Homo sapiens: one gene and its partners. The protein of the gene in region 3 interacts with the protein of the main gene of each other region in a pairwise test. Each region holds a gene or a part of one and is shown on either strand. Other genes may lie near its edges. The genes, in order: MYBPC2, CDK11B and MSN.

Region 1 (3,647 bases), on a different chromosome or scaffold from region 3:
CATTGTCTCTCTGCCTGTCCATCCATCATCTGTACCTCCATACATCCACTCTCCATCCTCCACCAAACAAACATTCACTGAGCACTGACTTGTGCCCGGCCCAGTGCCATGGCTATGGAGATGTCTCAGACGCAGCCATCTCTCTGGGAGAACAGACGTGATCACCTCGACACACTATCCCAGGTCTTAAAGTCAGACAGATGCGGGTTCCAACCTTGCCCCTCCACTGTCTAACTGTGTGTCCTTGGGCAAGTCTCTGAGCCTCAGTCTCTTCATCTAACCATGGCGAAGACAGTTCTCATCTTGACAGGGTACAGTGACGATGTACTCGAGAATGCATGGAAAGGAGGGATGGTTGAACCCTCATCAGCTTCCTCCCTCCTCCTCTCCTCCGTGCTCTTTACCCCATTCCTCCCTGGCCGGCTGCTCCCACCCTGACGTTTCAGAACCCAGCTTGTTAGAGTTCACTCTGTTGATTGCTGCTCTGAGCCAACAGCCATGAGTTCCCCAGCCCATGGCCATAAACCCAAGACAGAAGGGCATGTAACGAAAAGCAGGCAATCTGAAGAGCTCTGACCCTGCCCTCAGCCCGCCTTCCCAGACACCCACCTGGCTGCGCCCTCAGACAGAGCCAAGATCCCTGCCCCTCTGTGCCAGCCTTGCAGGAGAGCAGAGCTTGAGAGCGTGCTGGAGTCAGACAGGCCTGGGTTTAACATCCTAGTCCACAGAGCCTGAGCTGCGTGTCCAGGATGGTCTTGAATTCCTGGGCTTGAGAGATCCTCCTGCCTTGGCTTCCCAAAGTGCTGGGATTACAGGCATGAGCCATGGTACCTGGGGAAAGTTTTTTTTTTTTTTTTTTTGATGGAGTCTTGGTCTGTCGCCCAGGCTGGAATGCAGTGGGGTGATCTCGGCTCACTGCAACCTCTGCCTCCCAGGTTCAAGCGATTCTCCTGCCTCAGCCTCCTGAGTAGCTGGGATTACAGGTGCCTGCCACCTTGCCCGGCTAAGTATTGTGTTTTTAATAGAGACAGGGTTTCGCCATGTTGGCCAGGCTGGTCTTGAACTCCTGGACTCAAGTGATCTGCCCACCTCAGCCTCCCGAAGTGCTGGGATTACAAGCATGAGCCACGGGATTACAAGCATGTTAGGGATGGTTTCCCATCCTTAACATGGGGATAGCACAGGGTTGAGGTAAGAATTAATGAACAACGCCTATAATCCCAGCACTTTGGGAGGCCGAGGTGGGCGGATCACGAGGTCAGGAGTTCAAGAGCATCCTGGCCAACATGGTGAAACCCCATCTCTATTAAAAATACAAAAATTAGCTGGGCGTGGTGGTGCGAGCCTGTAGTCCCAGCTACTCAGGAGGCTGAGGCAGGAGAATTACTTGAACCTGGGAGGCGGAGGTTGCAGTGAGCCAAGATCTTGCCATTGCCCTGCAGCCTGGGCGACAGGGCGAGACTCCACCTAAAAAAAAAAAAAAAAGAATTCGTCCCACTGCACTCCAGCCTGGGCGACAGGGCGAGACTCCGTTTAAAAAAAAAAAAAATTAATGAGCGAACAGAATGGCCACCCTTAGAACCTGGCCATGATGAATGCTTAACTAACTCCAGCTGCTGCTGCTGCTTCTACTGGGAACTTACTCAGTGCTCACTCGCTCGCTGCGTGGGGCCCAAGTCCCCGGGAGAAACGGGAGCGGAGGATGGGAGGAGGGCACGAGATCCGCCAGCAGGGCCTCTCTCTCCAGCCGAGGAATGGGTCCCTGCCAACACCGAGCCCGTGGAGCGCTGTGGCTTCACCGTCAAGAATCTCCCGACCGGAGCCAGAATCCTCTTCCGAGTAGTTGGGGTCAACATCGCGGGGCGCAGCGAGCCGGCCACCCTGGCCCAGCCGGTCACCATCAGGGAGATTGCGGGTGCGTGGCCCCTGACCCTGCGCTCCGAAAGACCAAGCTGGCGTCGTCCCGCCTGCCCTTTCCGTGTCGTCGACAGGACCTCCCCAGAGAGCCTTATCACCATTGGCCCCTGGAATGCGCCCCGGCCCCCCGCTGAGCCCCCTCCCTGTGTTTGCGCCCTCAGAGCCACCCAAGATCCGGCTTCCCCGCCATCTCCGCCAGACCTACATCCGCAAAGTGGGCGAGCAGCTCAACCTTGTCGTCCCCTTCCAGGTCAGGGGAGCGGGGTCACGGGCCGGGGGTCCGCTCTCGCCGCAAGCCCCCTTTTTGCGGGTGGAGCCCCGCTGACCCCACCCCGCCCCGCCCTCTCCCCGCAGGGAAAGCCCCGGCCCCAGGTGGTGTGGACCAAGGGCGGGGCCCCGCTGGACACCTCCCGCGTGCACGTGCGGACCAGCGACTTCGACACCGTGTTCTTCGTGCGCCAGGCGGCCCGCTCCGACTCCGGGGAGTACGAGCTGAGCGTGCAGATCGAGAACATGAAGGACACCGCCACCATCCGCATCCGCGTTGTGGGTGCGCGCGCTGGGGAGGGCCCCTGGAGGCCGGGAGGGGCAGGGATGGGCAGCGATGGGGGAGGAGGTAAGAGATGAGGGGTGGGGAAGGAGGTGGGAGATGAAGGGTGGGAGAGGAGGTGAGATGAGGGATGGGAGAGGAGGTGAGAGATGGGGGGTGGGAGAGGAGGTGAGAGATGAGGGGTGGGAGAGGAGGTGAGATGGGGGTGGGAGAGGAGGTGAGAGATGGGGGGGTGGGAGAGGAGGTGAGAGATGGTGGGAGAGGAGGTGAGAGATGGTGGGAGAGGAGGTGAGAGATGGGGGGTAGGAGAGGAGGTGAGACGAGGGGTGGGAGAGGAGGTGAGAGATGAGGGATGGGAGAGGAGGTGAGGAGATGAGGAGGGGAGGGGGAGAGGAGGTGAAAAGATGAGGTGGGGGAGACTAGATAAGGAGCAAGGCAAGTACCAGGGCTAGGAGTGGAGGAGAGATGAAGATGGGGGAACCCTTGAGAGGGAGATTGGGTGAAGAGAGGAAGTGGGGAGACATGGGGGTGAGGAGAGGAGGTGAGGAGGGATGAGGGTGGCCCAGGATAAGAGGAAGTGGAGAGACTGGGATGGGGGAGGCCATAGGCAGGAATGGGAATGGGGCATAAGAGAGGTTAGAATCAGGAGGGAGGGGGTGTGGAGAGGGGAGGGGAGGGAAGCGGCTGGACATCCCAAAACCTGGACTGACTTGTCACACTTCCCCATTTCCAGAAAAGGCTGGGCCCCCCATAAACGTGATGGTGAAGGAGGTGTGGGGCACGAACGCGCTGGTGGAGTGGCAGGCCCCCAAAGATGATGGGAACAGTGAGATCATGGGGTATTTCGTCCAGAAAGCAGACAAAAAAACCATGGTGAGAGAGCAGAGGGGGAGATGGGGAAGAGCCGGTGAGGTGGGCAGAGCAGGTGCAGATGTCCCCCGTTCACAGCTGGAAGGGCAGGGAGGGGCCCAGAGGCTAGAGGACGGGCTGGGGCCAGGAGGGAAGCCTTTTAGCTGAGACTTGGCACGTGATGGGTTTTCATTTTCTTTTTTCACTGAGGTAAACGTCACATAACGGAATTAGTCATTCATCGTTTTAAAGCGAACAATTCAGCAGCACTTAGGACATCTGCAGGGTTGTGCAGCCACCGCCTCTACCCAGTCCATTTTCATCCCCCAGA
Region 2 (3,647 bases), on a different chromosome or scaffold from region 3:
AAACAGGTGGGTGGGGTCCCCTCACCCCACAAAGGCAGGGGAAGTGGGGCAGGGGCTGGCTGCCCGAGAGCTGCGACTGCACCTGGGCCCGCCTCACCTGAGCAGCTACTGGAGGTTGGACCCCTCAGCACCTCTAGAAGCCAGAGGTCAGCCTGGCCCTGGGGCTTTGCCACTCCCTTGCAGTAGCAGGCGGCCTGCCCCACAGGGCCGAGGCCCAGCGCGTGGAGTGGTCTGTGCCGGGGCTGGTGTGCAGGTTTGCGTTCCCAGCGTCCCACCCAAGCAGGTGTGTGAGCCGGGAACTCTGTTGGGAGTCGGCCACTGGGATCCCAGGTGAGGCCGGCTCTGTTGGGGAAGTCGATGTGGAGTCGGCGTGGCCGCTGGGATCCCAGGTGGCTGTAGGTGGCTGTGAGTGTCTGTGGTGTGTTGAGTGGGAAGCCGTGGGTGTTGCCCAGACCTCAGCTGGGGCGTTCTCCTGGTGCCCACGTGCCCCCACCTAGAACGAGACCCCCCTCCGTGAAATGCTGGCGCTTTGGGCACTGCCTGCGGTCCTCACTGAACGAGTCCACTGTTGGTACCGTGACTTTGAGAATGCCTCTCAGTGCCGTCTGTATTTTCTTCACAGATGAAATTGTGGCTCTAAAGCGGCTGAAGATGGAGAAGGAGAAGGAGGGCTTCCCGATCACGTCGCTGAGGGAGATCAACACCATCCTCAAGGCCCAGCATCCCAACATCGTCACCGTTAGAGTGAGCATGGCCCCACCACGCCTGGCCCCGGGTGGAAGGCTTTTCTGACAGGGCCCCGTGCTGTCCTGGGGCCGGGTGCTTCCTACACTCTCCTGCACTTAGTGGAGCCCTTCACAGACCACACAGAAGCAAGCATTTGCCTCCCGGGTGGCACCGGAGGTCCTTACTGTCCCTCAGCAGCTGCACCCGGGTGCAGGGGTGGGTGGGGGCCTGGAGGTGCCCAGCACCCACAGAGCCGTGCCCTGCAGGAGATTGTGGTGGGCAGCAACATGGACAAGATCTACATCGTGATGAACTATGTGGAGCACGACCTCAAGAGCCTGATGGAGACCATGAAACAGCCCTTCCTGCCAGGTACAGCCGCGCCCCAGGGGCCTGTCTGCGTACAAGTGGGGGCAGGGTCCTGGTCACCCCCGCGGTGACAGTGCTGCAGGGAGGGCCAGCTGCATCCACAGGGAAAGCCCTGAGAAGCCTCTGTTGCTGCCGAGGCGAGTGGGCCACCCTGAGTGCCCTGGGCTGGGGGCAGCCAGGTCCACATGGGAGCTTCCCTCCCTCCCAGGGGAGGTGAAGACCCTGATGATCCAGCTGCTGCGTGGGGTGAAACACCTGCACGACAACTGGATCCTGCACCGTGACCTCAAGACGTCCAACCTGCTGCTGAGCCACGCCGGCATCCTCAAGGTGAGCCCCCCTCCGAGTGGCCCATCCCAGGGAGACCTGCCGGGGCCCACTCACAGCCGCCCATCTGTCGTTGCAGGTGGGTGACTTCGGGCTGGCGCGGGAGTACGGATCCCCTCTGAAGGCCTACACCCCGGTCGTGGTGACCCTGTGGTACCGCGCCCCAGAGCTGCTGCTTGGTGCCAAGGTGAGTCCTGGGCGTCTGAGTGCCTCCCCTGTCCCCCACGCAGCCTCCCACAGCTTCGCGGGCACTGGCCCTCCTGAACACCTCTCCTGACCTCTTAGGAATACTCCACGGCCGTGGACATGTGGTCAGTGGGTTGCATCTTCGGGGAGCTGCTGACTCAGAAGCCTCTGTTCCCCGGGAAGTCAGAAATCGATCAGATCAACAAGGTGTTCAAGGTGGGTCTGGCCCTGCTGCAGGTGCGCTGTGGGGTTGTGGAGGAGTTGCAGGAATGGGGCTGCGGGGCGCACAGGTGCTGGGTTGAGATGGGGACCAGGGCCACTGAGAGCCCTCCTGGTGGCTTGTCTTCTCTGACGGGACACAGGTGCCAACACTGTGGGCCACTTGGTGTGGCTGTTGAAGCACCTCTGTCTTTCAGGATCTGGGGACCCCTAGTGAGAAAATCTGGCCCGGCTACAGCGAGCTCCCAGCAGTCAAGAAGATGACCTTCAGCGAGCACCCCTACAACAACCTCCGCAAGCGCTTCGGGGCTCTGCTCTCAGACCAGGGCTTCGACCTCATGAACAAGTGAGCCCAGTGCAGCCGGGTGGCGGGAGGTCCCGAGCCATAGCGGTGACTTCCCAGTCCCAGGCCTACCTGCTGGCTCACCACGTTCCAGAACTGCTCTGGTGCCTGGCGTCCCATGCCCTGAGCCCCGTCCCAACACAGCCCATCTTTGGGGGACCCAGTGGAGCACACGAGCACCTCCTGGGCCTCTGGCCCTCTCCCCCCAGGTTCCTGACCTACTTCCCCGGGAGGAGGATCAGCGCTGAGGACGGCCTCAAGCATGAGTATTTCCGCGAGACCCCCCTCCCCATCGACCCCTCCATGTTCCCCACGTGGCCCGCCAAGAGCGAGCAGCAGCGTGTGAAGCGGGGCACCAGCCCGAGGCCCCCTGAGGGAGGCCTGGGCTACAGCCAGCTGGTGAGGGGCCTGGCGGGTGGGGCGTGCCCACAGGTGGGGCTGGCTTGGGCAGGGTTCTCACGGTAGCCGACTCGTCCCAGGGTGACGACGACCTGAAGGAGACGGGCTTCCACCTTACCACCACGAACCAGGGGGCCTCTGCCGCGGGCCCCGGCTTCAGCCTCAAGTTCTGAAGGTCAGAGTGGACCCCGTCATGGGGAGAACTCAGCCGGGACCACAGGCGTGGCTACTGCGGCTGGAGCTGCGATGAGACTCGGAACTCCTCGTCTTACTTTGTGCTCCATGTTTTGTTTTTGTATTTTGGTTTGTAAATTTGTAGAATTAAATCATTTTCCTTGTTGTGGAGGAAAGAGCTGTGTTTTCTCCGTGACTTGCCCAGGGCGGAGAGGGTGGACATCTTCGGGTGCCCACGTGGGGCAGCACAAACCTCCACACACCCTCTCCCACTCTCGACACGCACGGGGCTGGCTGGGCCGTGATTTGGAAAGGAACTGGTGGGAGCCGGGTGGATTGTTTAATCTTCGGAGCTGGAGACCTGTTTCTGTGTTGGGATGAGCGATGCCCTCTTGCCCCAACCCACTCGTCCAGACCAGCCCTGTCCACACAGGCCCCCGGCCCCCAACCCCCAGCCCCAGCTGTGCCAGCAGACTCGACAGGTTTTTATACAAGGTTGTTGAGTTTTAAAATGTATTAAAATATTCTTCGAGGAAAGCTCCCCGTGTCGTCCTTTGAGTGACCCGGGACCATGTGTGGGAGGGGAGTCGCAGACCACCGGGCTCTAGGGGAAGAGGGTGGGGTGGGCGGCTGTGGCCTCTGACCCCATGTGGGCCAGTGTCTTCCCCAGGCAGGAGGGGAGCTCCTACCTCCTGGGGGGCCTCCACTCTGGCAAGGTGGTCCCCCACCCTGTGCCAGTCCTCCCAGCCCCCACCCACATCTCCTTGCAGAAGATCCTGGAGGCCCATCCCAGCCACATCTTTCAGGAAGCCCCCTTTGCCTCCCTCCCCCAGCTCTGAGCAAGTCCTAGACAGAACCCAGGCTTCTGGGGCTACCCCAGGTGCTGCTCCACGTGCTGCCCCTG
Region 3 (3,647 bases):
CCACCCCAAAACCAAGCCTGACTAATACTTGGACAAGATTCCAATCATCCTTCTATGTATACATTTTACAAAGTTGAGCTCACGGACTCTATGAAATACTGTTTACATTTCCTCAATATTACTAAAGTGTCTTCCGTGAGCATGAAATAGTCTTCATAAAGATTTTGTATGACCATATAAGAAGCCATTTTGTGGCTGTACTATATACATTATTTAAGCAAAATATCTAACAACTAAAAATCAATCTTTTTTTTCTTTTAATGGGAGACTTTTGTACTCTGTAAGAGGAATTTAGCATATTGGTTTACATTGTGAGGTTTGGATTTAGACCTGGATTCAAACCCTGTCTCCCCTGCTTAATAGCAATGTGACTTTAGACAAATACCTATTTCTTTATCTCCAATGTGGAGATAATACTCTACTTCACAGGGTGATTATTGATATTAAATGAGGTAGTACATATGAAGTGCCTGGTGAGTAGCAAGTCTTGATACAGGAAAGCTGCTGCCTGTTACTATTACTACTGCTACCATTACTACTGAGTTTTCAGCCAAAGGACTAAATCTCTAATTATGAAATTTCAGCTATCATTGACCTAGCTTCGAGGATCTATTTGTAAAGGTGGTATTTTTTCTAGTGCCCGTGAAATCATGTGTGTGGCTGTCTCTTATTTTGGTCTGGGCCTGTTTCTGCACCTTTGTCCTCCCACTGAGTTGGCTTTGGTAGCCCCTCTATGCCACCCATACCCACCTCTACTGAGGCCCCCTTCCCCTCTTGAGCCTAAGGAAGCCAATGAGACATAAATATAGGAAGCATTAGCAATGCAAGGCAGTATATAGAACCACCGACATCAGCACTGAAATGGTCTTTGGACCATTTATCTAGTTTAATTGGCTGCCCTCCATCCCATTCCTGCCTTTGCACAGGTAAGGGAAACTAAGGCCCAGGAAAAGGACAGGAGTTATCCAAGGTTGTAGATTTGACCAGCTACATGCTAGGCTTGGAATCCAGTGTTCTTCTTTGTTTTTAATTTTTATTTTAAGTTCAGGGGTACATGTGCAGGTTTGTCATAAGGTAAACTCATGTCATGGGGGTTCATTGTACAGATCATTTTATCACCCAGGTATTAAGCCTAGTACCCATTAGTTATTAAAATATTTTTTCCTGATCATCTCCCTCCTCCCACCCTCCACCTTCTATGTGTCTGTGTGTTCTCATCATTTAATTCCCACTTATAAGTGAGAACATGTGGTATTCTACAACCTCTGCCTCCCGGGTTAAAGCGATTCTCGTGCCTCAGCCACCAAAGTAGCTGGGATTACAGGTGTGCACCACCTTGCCTGGCTAATTTTTGTGTTTTTAGTAGAGATGGGGTTTCGCTATATTGTCCAGGCTGGTCTTGAACTCCTGGCCTCAAGGGATGCGTCCATCTTGGCCTCCCAAAGTGCTGGGATTACAGGTGTGAGCTACCATGCCCAGTCTGGCATTTGATTTTCTGTTCCTGCATTAGTTTGCTAAGGATAATGACCTCCACTCCATTCATGTTCCTGCAAAGGACATGATCTTGTTGTTTTTTATGGCTGCATACTAACATACATTTTCTTTATCCAGTCTACCATTGACTGGCATTTAGGTTGATTCCATGTCATTGCTATTGTGAATAGTGCTTCAATGCACATGCGCGTTTATGTATTTTTATGATAGAATGATTTATATTCCTTTGGATATATACCCCATAATGATATTGCTGGGTTGAATGGTAGTTTTGTTTTCAGGTCTTTGAGAAATTGCCACACTGTTTTCTACCATGGTTGAACTAATTTACACTCCCACCAACAGTGTATAAAGGTTCCCTTTTCTTTGCAATCTCACTAGCATCTGTTATTATTTTTTTTTGATTTTTTAATAATAGCTATTCTGACTTGTGTGAGATGGTATCTCATTGTGGTTTTGATTTGCATTTCTCTAATGATGTAAATTTTTTATATATGCTTCTTGGCCACATGTATGTCTTCTTTTGAAAAGTGTCTCTTCATATCCTTTGCTCACATTTTAATGGGGTTGTTTTTTTTCTTGTAAATTTGTTAAAGTTCCTTATAGATGCTGGATATTAGACCTTTGTAAGTTGCATAGTTTGCAAATATTTTCTCTGGTTCCGTAGGTTGCCTGTTAACTCGATAGTTTCTTTTGCTGTGCAGAAGCTCTTTAGTTTAGTTAGATCTCATTTGTCAATTTTTGCTTTTGTTGCAATTGCTTTTGGCGTCTTTGTTATGAAATCTTTGTCCATTCCTATGTTCAGAATGGTATTACGTAGGTTTTCTTTGAGGGTTTTTATAATTTTGAGTTTTACATTACTTTTACATTTAAGTCTTTAATACATATAGAGTTGATTTTTATATGTGAGATAAGGATGGGGTCCAGTTTCAATCTTCTACATATGGCTAACCAGTTATCCCAGCACTGTTTATTGAATTGGGAGTCCTTTTTCCATTGCTTGTTTTTGTCGACTTTGTCAAAGATCAGATGGTTGTAGGTGTGTGGCCTTATTTCTGGGCTCTCTATTCTGCTCCATTGGTCTCTGTGTCTGTTTTTGTACCAGTACAATGCTGTTTTGGTTACTGGAGCCCTCTAGTATCATTTGAAGTTGGGTAGCATGATGCCTCCAGCTTTGTTCTTTTTGCTTAGGATTGCCATGGTTATTCAGGCTGTTTTTTTGTTTCCATATGAATTTTAAAATAGTTTTTCCTAGTTCTGTGAAGAATGTCATTGGTAGTTTGATAGGAATAGCATTGAGTCTATTCTATGAATTGCTTTGGGCAGTATCACCATTTTAACAATATTGATTCTTCCTATTCATGAGCATGGACTGTTTCTCCATTTGTTTGTGTCATATCTGATTTCTTTGAGCAGTGATTTGTAGTTCTTCTTGTAGAGATCTTTCGCTTCCCTAGTTAACAGTATTCCTAGATATTTATTCTTTTGTGGCAGTTCTGAATGGGATTGCCTTCCTGATTTGGCTCTTGGCTTGACTGTTGTTGGTGTATACGAATGCTAGTGACTTTTGTATGTTGATTTTTGTACACTGAGACTTTGCTGAAGTTATTTATCAGATTAAGGAGCTTTTGGGCCGAGACTATTGGATTTTCTAGATATAGGATCATGTCATCTGCAAACAAGGATAGTTTGACTTCCTCTCCTCTTGCTTGGTTGCCCTCTATTTCTTTCTCTGGTCTGATTGCTCTGGCCAGGACTTCTAATACTATGTTGAATATGAGTGGTGAGAGAGGGCATTCTTGTCTTGTGTCGGTTTTAAAAGGGAATGCTTCCAGCTTTGGCGCATTCAGTATGATGTTGGTTGTGGCTTTATCAGATGGCTCTTATTATTTTGAGGTATGCTCCTTCAATACCTAGTTTATTGAGAACTTTTAACATGAAGGGGTGTTAGATTTTATTGAAAGCTTTTTCTGCCCTTTAGATTATCATGTGGAACCCAGTGCTCTTTGTCCTGATATTAATTTGCCTCTGCAATTGTTTACCAGTGCTATAGATAATCCAGGTAGATCAGAGGTGAGAAGAGAACCCTGTGAGATGAAGCTGTCTAGTATAGATGGAAAGGCCTTCCTGGAAGAAGTACAGTTATCATTTGC

The links.
Region 1: the proteins of MSN (region 3) and MYBPC2 interact in a two-hybrid assay, tested with the Homo sapiens proteins (one large-scale study listed by BioGRID and IntAct).
Region 2: the proteins of MSN (region 3) and CDK11B interact in a two-hybrid assay, tested with the Homo sapiens proteins (one large-scale study listed by BioGRID and IntAct).

Annotation. Positions count from the first base shown.
Region 1 is NC_000019.10:50,456,840-50,460,486, forward strand, and holds part of MYBPC2 (myosin-binding protein C, fast-type), read left to right. Parts: intron 1-1,747; coding exon 1,748-1,915; intron 1,916-2,078; coding exon 2,079-2,167; intron 2,168-2,271; coding exon 2,272-2,467; intron 2,468-3,200; coding exon 3,201-3,340; intron 3,341-3,647. UniProt on the Homo sapiens protein: Thick filament-associated protein located in the crossbridge region of vertebrate striated muscle a bands. In vitro it binds MHC, F-actin and native thin filaments, and modifies the activity of actin-activated myosin ATPase.
Region 2 is NC_000001.11:1,634,859-1,638,505, reverse strand, and holds the end of CDK11B (cyclin-dependent kinase 11B), read left to right. Parts: coding exon 1-6; intron 7-622; coding exon 623-744; intron 745-992; coding exon 993-1,098; intron 1,099-1,303; coding exon 1,304-1,425; intron 1,426-1,501; coding exon 1,502-1,609; intron 1,610-1,652; coding exon of another isoform or gene 1,653-1,707; coding exon 1,708-1,824; intron 1,825-2,024; coding exon 2,025-2,173; intron 2,174-2,379; coding exon 2,380-2,569; intron 2,570-2,649; coding exon 2,650-2,742; 3' UTR 2,743-3,281; downstream 3,282-3,647. UniProt on the Homo sapiens protein: Plays multiple roles in cell cycle progression, cytokinesis and apoptosis. Involved in pre-mRNA splicing in a kinase activity-dependent manner. Isoform 7 may act as a negative regulator of normal cell cycle progression.
Region 3 is NC_000023.11:65,712,599-65,716,245, forward strand, and holds part of MSN (moesin), read left to right. Parts: intron 1-3,647. UniProt on the Homo sapiens protein: Ezrin-radixin-moesin (ERM) family protein that connects the actin cytoskeleton to the plasma membrane and thereby regulates the structure and function of specific domains of the cell cortex.